Regions from separate parts of the Homo sapiens genome. Here regions 2 and 3 are each linked to region 1. The links come from fine-mapping of genetic effects on gene expression. A gene starts in region 1. Each other region holds a variant in brackets. All regions are shown on one strand. Distances are from middle to middle.

The links. PIP is the estimated chance that this variant, and not a neighbour inherited with it, causes the effect.
Region 2: its variant is fine-mapped to the expression of SPATS2L in lymphoblastoid cells (GEUVADIS, PIP 0.93).
Region 3: its variant is fine-mapped to the expression of SPATS2L in whole blood (INTERVAL, PIP 0.98).

Annotation. Positions count from the first base shown.
Region 1 is chr2:200,305,484-200,308,240 of GRCh38, forward strand. SPATS2L (spermatogenesis associated serine rich 2 like) reads left to right here and starts at 1,210. Exons shown (of 13, transcript NM_001100423.2): 1 at 1,210-1,439. RefSeq lists an enhancer at 585-684 and silencers at 1,095-1,824, 1,845-2,174.
Region 2 is chr2:200,451,394-200,454,150 of GRCh38, forward strand. The region is part of intron 8 of SPATS2L (spermatogenesis associated serine rich 2 like); the gene reads left to right. The region is part of intron 2 of LOC101927741 (a long non-coding RNA gene); the gene reads right to left. Among named protein-coding and RNA genes, the nearest start is that of KCTD18, 57 kb to the right of the region's middle. The variant TAA/T (reference allele first, on the strand shown) is at 1,499.
Region 3 is chr2:200,475,746-200,478,502 of GRCh38, forward strand. SPATS2L (spermatogenesis associated serine rich 2 like) reads left to right here. Exons shown (of 13, transcript NM_001100423.2): 13 at 1,891-2,757. The coding sequence ends at 2,286. It overlaps LOC101927741 (a long non-coding RNA gene), which reads right to left and starts at 2,228. Exons shown (of 7, transcript XR_007088047.1): 1 at 1,800-2,228; 2 at 358-497. The variant A/G (reference allele first, on the strand shown) is at 1,505.

The sequences.
Region 1 (2,757 bases):
GGTAGCAAGAACCACTCCAAGTCACATAAGAAAATGAATTCCTTTCGTTTTAGCTCCTCTCTTTATTTCAGCAGTGCGTTGTCAACAGGGCCACATTATGTTAGCAGATTTGAACTTTATCCGAAAGGTGTTTGTATTTTATTTCAAATTATGAATTCCTGAACATCGGATTATGTACGATTCTGCAGTGCCCTCGGAGGCCCATTAGAGTCTGGAGCTCGAGAAGCATAACAAACTCTGGTCTGATATTTGTAAGGAGCTTGACAGCCAAGGAGCCACTCAGAAACAGTTATTGGTATTGCCAAAAAAAAAAAAAAAAAAGGAAGCTAAGAAGTCACCCTTCTAAATAAATAAATAAATAAATAAATAAATAAAAACCTGAATTGGAGAGCTGCCTGCATTTCACTCTACTGCCTCTGGAAGAAGAGTGTTATCTAAAGTGCTTCCATCATGAATAATGATTGAGAAACTGCTTTTACTCTCCCGACTACTGTACTCCCAGGCAGAAACCCACGGCTGAAGCCCACGATGCCCATGTGTAACTTGGTTATTACACACACGTTTGGAGCCCAGTGTGCAGACCCGCAGCGCAGAGGAGGCGGCGGAACACCCCGGGTTGGTCGGGTTTCCAAGGGCTGACCCGAGCTCCAGCACTTTTTCCGCGCCTGATTTTTCAGGTCATTTTCGAATGGGCTATCTTTGCTTACATTTTGAGCTTGGATCCTCTCCAGAAAGCATTACTACCTTCTAAAAGGAAAAACATCTCGTATTTGCAGACAGTGCTGAGGGAGCAAAGTTCATTTTCTCGGGTAGGAGAAGATGATTCTCTTGCAACACGTGCGGATTGTGACAAAATCTTTCATTAACAAGGGGAGTTTCGGTGAAGTGGAGGTTTGGGGAAAGGCGAGGAAGTCGGTCTGGAGCAAGCAAGCAAAGTGCGGAAGCTGTACTGGGATTCTTCTAGAAAGTGGGGTGGGAAAGGAGCTAGGGAGGGCGTGTGGAGGGACGAGATCTGTGTCAGAACGTGCGTGTGAGCGGATACAAAACCCGAGAGAGGCGTGAGCAGCGCTGTGTTTGCGAGCGGGAGCGAGGGGCGCCGGCTGGGGTGTGTGCTCCTGGTGAGTGACACCGAGGGGAAGGCGGGCGGGTCGGCGGGCGGGGGCAGCCTGCGAGGGGCGGGAGTGTCCCTGCGTGGGGCGGCCGAGCCGGAGTTGTGTCAGTGAAGGAATCCAGTCCGGGGGCCGAGCTGGCTGCGCCCTCCGCTGCAAGCGCCGGCAGCGCGGGGCGAGCTCCGGACGGCGCGCGGCCCAGGCAGCGGCTCCCGCTCGGCCCGCCCTCCGAGCCGCAGGGGCCGCCACCGCCGCGGCGCCTCCCCTGGCGACCGCGCCCCCGGGCCCCGGCTCCGGCCCGGGACGGAGGAGCCGGCGCTCGACACAGAGGTAAGCCCAGGACCCCCTCCACGCCGGGCCGGCTGGGGATGCAGGGCGCGGGCGGACGCGGAGGGGCCTGCGCGGCCGGGACGGAGACTCGGCTGGGCCGAGCATTCCGCAGCCCGGGCCGCCCAGCCTCCGCCGCCTCCCGGAGCGCTGGGTGTGGCCCGCGCTCGGCGCCGAGGCGGGCTGGTGGCGCGGACCGGACGCGAAGGTCGCCGTCCTTCCTTTCTCCAGCCGGCGCGGGCAAGCGGGAGGAGGCGCCGGCTGGGACGCACAGTGGCGCTCCCCGGGCGAGCGTGTGGCCGCCGCGCTCCGACGTGTACCCGCCCGCCCCGGATCTGAATCGCCCGCGGCCGCCGTCCCTCGCCTGCCGTCCTCCCGCGCGGGCGCCCCCGTTCCCTCCCAAGCCGGAAAGAGACCCACCGTCCCCCAGGCTGCTCTCTGGCCCGGAGCCGCAAAGCCCACGTCAGCCGCGACCACCCCGCCCTCGGATCCCAGCCGGGTGCGGGGGCCGCGGCCCCACTGAACCCCGCGCCCCTGGCGCCCAGCGGGAGTGGGATGCGTTGGCGTCCGCGCTGCGCGGGTGGGCTGGGGTGGCCGGAGCAGACGCGGAGCGCCCTGGCCGCGGGACGAAGCGGTCGCGCCGCCGCATTTGGGCGGGGGGACCCCGGAGTCCGCGGGCTGCGGACCCCAGCGGGAGACGGGGTTGTCGTAGGATGCGCTCGCGCTGGACGCCGGCGCACTCTGAATATCATGCTGCCGCACACGCGGGGCTGAAGGGCCGAGTCTTCACCTGCGCGGGGATGCGGCGGAAGCGTCGCGTCTTCGCGAGTGGAGGTTTCGTGTTCCCGCGGGGTTGGTGTGTTTTTGAACTTCACGAGCTTCTCATCCCCCCCGCAATCCTGGTTTTAGCAGATGTCGGGGTTTTGGAGACCTGACACTTTTCGTGAAAGATTCTTTCTGTACGTTTTCTTTTGGCTATATTACAGGGTTTGTAGCTTGAGAACTAGTGAAAACCCTTGAACTTCAAACACAGTCTCATTGCTTATTTTTTGAAATTTAAATATTAAAATATGTACCAGCCCCCTCACAAGCCGACAGACTTTAAGACAAACGACTGTGAAATTTTAGAACCTGTGCAGAGAAAGTGGTTTTATACCAGTACTTGAAATAGTAAGGTCGTGTAACCTTTTTAACATCGTTTTAGTTTGTCTTAAAGGAAGGTTTCAGCACCACTTTGACTGGTACTGTTTTCCAGAGTTTAAGCAGATGTATGTAATATAGCAGGGAAGAGGACAGGAAGTCAGAAATCTCTTCACTCTGA
Region 2 (2,757 bases), 150 kb after region 1:
CCTCTCAAATCAGAAAGTTCATTTATAAATTATACATGTGTACTACTGTTAATCTGTATACTAAAGATGAGGAAAGCCTACTTAGAATAACAAGTGAGTACATAAAATTTAATATTGTATTCCTGCTCCATTTTGGAAGCCTGGACTAGGGTACGGCCTTACCATGGGCAATAACAACACCTGTGATTGTGGGGAAGAGCCTTCTAGGCCAAAAACAAGAAGAGCCCCTCCCCTCCCCTTTTCACATGAGAGCCTGCCTGGAGGCCAGGAGCAGAGGAGGCTAGGCCTGGCTGCCTTGGGTTGAATGTGGGCCAGCATTTCTGGCACTTCTTGTACTATATCAGTTTCTTCCAGTTTCTGTTCCTGTTATTTATGTTCAGCAACCATGATGGCATCTACATAAATGCCCTTCCCCTTGCCCCCACCGTTTTCTTTTTTCTTTTCTTTTTTTGGAAGGAAATACAACAGTGATCAGAGTGATTGGCTCTATTTTGTGCTTGAGACAAAGGGGCATTTTGCTTTATTTTGTTTTATTTTGAAATTTGTTTCATTTTATCCTGCTTTCTAATATTTTCCAGTTTTTTAGTAGAGATGGGGTTTCACCATGTTGGCCAGGCTGGTCTTGAACTCCTGACCTGAGGTGATCTGCCTGCCTCGCCCTCCCAAAGTGCTGGGATTATAGGCATGAGCCACCACGCCCGGCAGATGTAACTTTAAAAGGGGAAGCGGGGGAGTCAGCATTTTTATAGTCAAAGACACTGAAATACAGTCAAGTTACTTTCCCTGAATAGTGACCTCCATGAAAAGAAACTGAACTAATAAGTAATTAGCAAAGATAAAAATTTCTATTGTTCATCAAAGTCATATGTACAATTTCTAAACAGAGGAATATAGATTTTTCAGTTGAACATTTAATGTTGTGGGATTTCCATACTATGGGATTATGCTATTCTGTCATTTAAAAAATTCCAATAAGAAAAAGAAATCCCTGTATATTTTTTAATTAATTATGTCCTTTTTGAAGAACTCCAAAATATTACTAATGTTGAGAGTTAGTCCTTATACTAAATCTGTGTGTCTCATCCCAGAAATGCACCTCAGACAGTATGATGAACAATTTATTAACCATGATTTCAAATCATTGTATGATTCCAACATAAAATATGCAGACTAAACAATATTAACACATTGTATTGCCTCTCATAAAAGTAGTAGAAATAAAATGTCAGCCTGATTGGCAATTGAGTGTAGTCATTGATGTTCATTGACAGTCAGATGGATTTTGACTTTGCTTTGTATGTTGAGTGTGGTTCATGCTTGAGGCACCCCCACTCTATTTCCCGGATGAGCGTGATTAGTAGGCAGCCTTTCAAAGGGTTATGTGCTAACCCCAGTCTACATGCTGTGGACATGTATGCAGGGTTTTATATGTTTACCAAATAACACTGTTAAACCCAATAAATCTTTAGAAGGACCAATTTGTCACCAGTGCTGCATT[TAA/T]AAAAAAAAAAATCTATTATTATTTTTCAGTTTTGAAAAGAATTCAGGTTGTTATAAAACCTAAATGCAAATATATACAGAGTGGAAGGTGACAGACCCGGGAATTCCAGCAGTGTAACAATAAACAACAACAAATAGCCAAGGACTGGGTAATGTGCTCAGGGTTAAATAAGAGTCAGTGGAAGTGGAGAGGTGCATGGGACAGACAGACATTTCTGGGGTAGACTTCCAAGGATGTAACCATGTGGGAAGTGAAGGAAGAGGAGCCATGGACACTGGGTGAGAGATGACACCAGTAACCAGCATAGAGGGTGCAGGAGAGAGGACAGGATGGGGAGCAGAACAGCAAGGAAGAGCCGGGAATTGGCAGTGTGCAAGAACGTGAGTGCCCTTTACAGTTAGGGCTGCCAGGCCTCCTGACCCTGGGAATAAAGAACCGTACGGTCTTTCTGCATTTGTGGCTGTCAAGCCAGGGAAGCATCTTTGTTGACAGCTGCAACAAAGAAATTGAGAAATTGCAATTGAGAAATTGGTGAGCTGAAACCCCTGACTAGCTTTGCCCTGGGCCCAATAATTGCTGGTAATACTTGGGGAGTTGGACCAGAAATGGTACTCATGGGAACAGTACATTAGGCCTTAAATGTATAAAGGAAGTTTTCCTGCCTTGCAACTAGTGGGCAAAATTTAAGGGAAGGGACACAGATGCTCAGTGCTAGCTAGTACGGGGCAACTGTAGCTTGCCAGCTCAAGGCCCACGTGGTGGTCAGTGGGCACTACTAGGCTATCAGCCCAGCTGACATCCCTCTCAGGGGATGTTAGAACCGTTGGTCACAGTTCTTATTCCTTTGCATTAAGAAGCGGCAGAGCCCACAGTGGAGGGAGATGTTTTTATACCACTCTTTTCTTTTTAGTGAAAGAAATGGAAATTCTTTATGCAGGGAAGCCTGGCTGTAGGGCTTATCAGTCTTTGGCATGCTTTATGCTATTTGGTAGAGGCCAGGAAGGCTGAAATATTCATTAGCATTCATAGCATCCTTTCTCTCCAGCAGTTCCCACCTTCTCTTTCTACTGCATGCGCCTCCTGCTGGGCCTGCCTCCCTCCCCATGCTCCCATTCTGCAATTGTTGGCTTGGCGAATGATGAGTTAAGCTCCAGCTGAAGTACTTTCCCCACAAGAAGGTTCTGCAGCAAAATTGTCTGGGATCAGATGGTCCCCGGCAATTCCTCTCACTCTAGTCTCCCTGAGGCAAATGCATG
Region 3 (2,757 bases), 170 kb after region 1:
GTCTGCCCTAAACCTATACCATCCAGTCACAGTGCACAAATGAAGAACCTTATATATTTGTAACTCATAAAATTTCATGTTTTCTTAAGAGGTTTGATTTTCAAAAAAGGTTTATGTTTATGTTACAACTTAAGAGTCTTGTCAGGAGATAGTATATAAAGCGGGAATAGCTCCACCATTTCCCAACTGTAGATAGACCTTGGGCAAGTCCCTGAAACTCCTTATCCTCATCTATAAAACGAAGCACATAATAGCAACTAACTTAAAGGGTGATTCTGATGTTAAATGAGGTAGTGCATGGTGAGAAACCCCATTCAGTGCATGGTAAGCACTCAATGAGTGTTGGCTATTACTGACCTTGAGGAGTTCAGAAATCTTTCCCTTGTAAAGGAGCTTAATCCATTGCGTCCTTACTGCTCATCCATTTACGTTCCTGGTCAGTGATGTGTTGAAGGAATGATTTTTTAATAGAGGCTTCAAATTTTCTTTGCTTATAACTGCAGAAAGTTTAGAAAAACAATGAATTACCTCTGTGAAAATACACCTTATTTCTGCATGCCACCAAGACCTGCCAGATACACTTCACCCCTATATTTGTCCAAGATAATATTTCTGAACTATAAAGATATTTGTTTTGGAATAAATTAGAAAAGCTACTTTAGAGAAGAAAAGTTACAGAATTTTACTTTTTCTTCACTTACGTAATTAGAATTCCTATGCATGGTTTTGAACAGGAAATTTTCCTTGACCCCTTCACAGGCCTTGCAACAGGGGTGCCTCACTTTCTCAGCCTGAAGCTCTGAACCCCTCGGGGGAGGGAGAGCATGCAGGTGAGCAGGTGCAGGAGCTAGAGCAAGCACTTTTGGCCACCGGCAGGATCAAAACTCCATGCAGTCCCACAGCAGTGCCTAGGGTAGTACCCATGACCCCTGGAGCCCCAGAGGGCATGCGTTACAATGCTCTTTTAGCTTTGCAGTCCAAGGACGGCTTAAGTATTTAACAGCTCAATAGACCTTCTACTTTTTCATGAAGGCAGAGGGTCAATGTGACACTTTTCTGTATCCTGAGCTCTTGTCCAGCATCCATGAAAAATCAGGTCATATGAACAAATTGAAGGATAGTAAACGCGGGGGATTTTATTGCCATTGAAAGTGGCTCTCAGCAGGAGGGAGAGAGCTGGAAAATGGGGATGGAGTGGGAACGTATTCTTCCCCTGAAGTACTGCCATCAAGCAGTCCCGCTAAAGTCAAGCTGCTGCTCTCCGACTCAGACTGCAGTCTCCGACGTGCAGCTGCTTCTCCTCTTCTCTGCTCTGTGCCAGTGGAGCCTGGGATTTTTATGGGTACAGGATACGGGGTGGGGTAGGCCAGGGGTGGTTTTGGAAAAGGCAATATTTGAGCAGGAAAACAGGAATGTAAAGTTCTCACTTTGGGCTTGAGAGTGGGTCTTGGCCAGGGACCCTGCCCTTTTTCTGTGTACAATTTCTGTGCCTCCTGTCCCTCTC[A/G]GTCTCTACAGAATGTCTCAGAAATCTCCATAGTAGAGGATCATCATTACTCTGCCCCTGGCTTCTGTTTTATTCTGCTATAGTTTAAGCATCTTTATGAATTTTATTTGACCCAGTTTTTGAATTGTCTGTCTTACACTTCTGTAACCTCTCTTTCAATATCATTTTCTTCCAGTTCCATTTACAAAACAGTCCACTATTCTTTTAGGATTAATAATTTTATCTGCCTGACCTCATCTTCATGTTTTCTGATTCTTCTGGTGTATAAAAAAAAAAAAAAAAAAAAAAAGCTTACCTGTGGCTTAGAGATTTGGTTTTCCTGATGTCTACTGGTGTCATCAGTGGCTTGCTGGCATCTGATACTTATCTCTTTTCTTTTTTGGTAGAATGGATCTTCTAACCAAAGACGGAGATTTAATCCACAGTATCATAACAACAGGCTAAATGGGCCTGCCAAGTCGCAGGGCAGTGGGAATGAAGCCGAGCCACTGGGAAAGGGCAACAGCCGCCACGAACACAGAAGACAGCCGCACAACGGCTTCCGGCCCAAAAACAAAGGCGGTGCCAAAAATCAAGAGGCTTCCTTGGGGATGAAGACCCCCGAGGCCCCGGCCCATTCTGAAAAGCCCCGGCGAAGGCAGCACGCTGCAGACACCTCGGAGGCCAGGCCCTTCCGGGGTAGTGTCGGTAGGGTTTCACAGTGCAATCTCTGCCCCACGAGAATAGAAGTTTCCACAGATGCAGCAGTTCTCTCAGTCCCGGCTGTGACGTTGGTGGCCTGAGCTAGGAGGAAAAAGAGCAGTTTTCACTCAGTTTTGGTTCCCTGCCCGAGGTGCTGACCCAATTCGCTGCCAAAAGAGTGTCAATCAGAATATACAAATCCCGTATGGTTGTGTCATCCTCTCTTAATCATTTTTACTAATTCTAATAATCAGCTCTAGCTTGCTTCATAATTTTCATGGCTTTGCTTGATCTGTTGATGCTTTCTCTCATCAAGACTTTGCAGCATTTTAGCCAGGCAGTATTTACTCATTATTAGGAAAATCAAGATGTGGCTGAAGATCAGAGGCTCAGTTAGCAACCTGTGTTGTAGCAGTGATGTCAGTCCATTGATTGTCTTTAGAGAGTTAATGTTACAAAAAAGAATTCTTAATAATCAGACAAACATGATCTGCTGAGGACACATGCGCTTTTGTAGAATTTAACATCTGGTGTTTTTCTGAAAAAATATATATACATATATTGCTTTATTT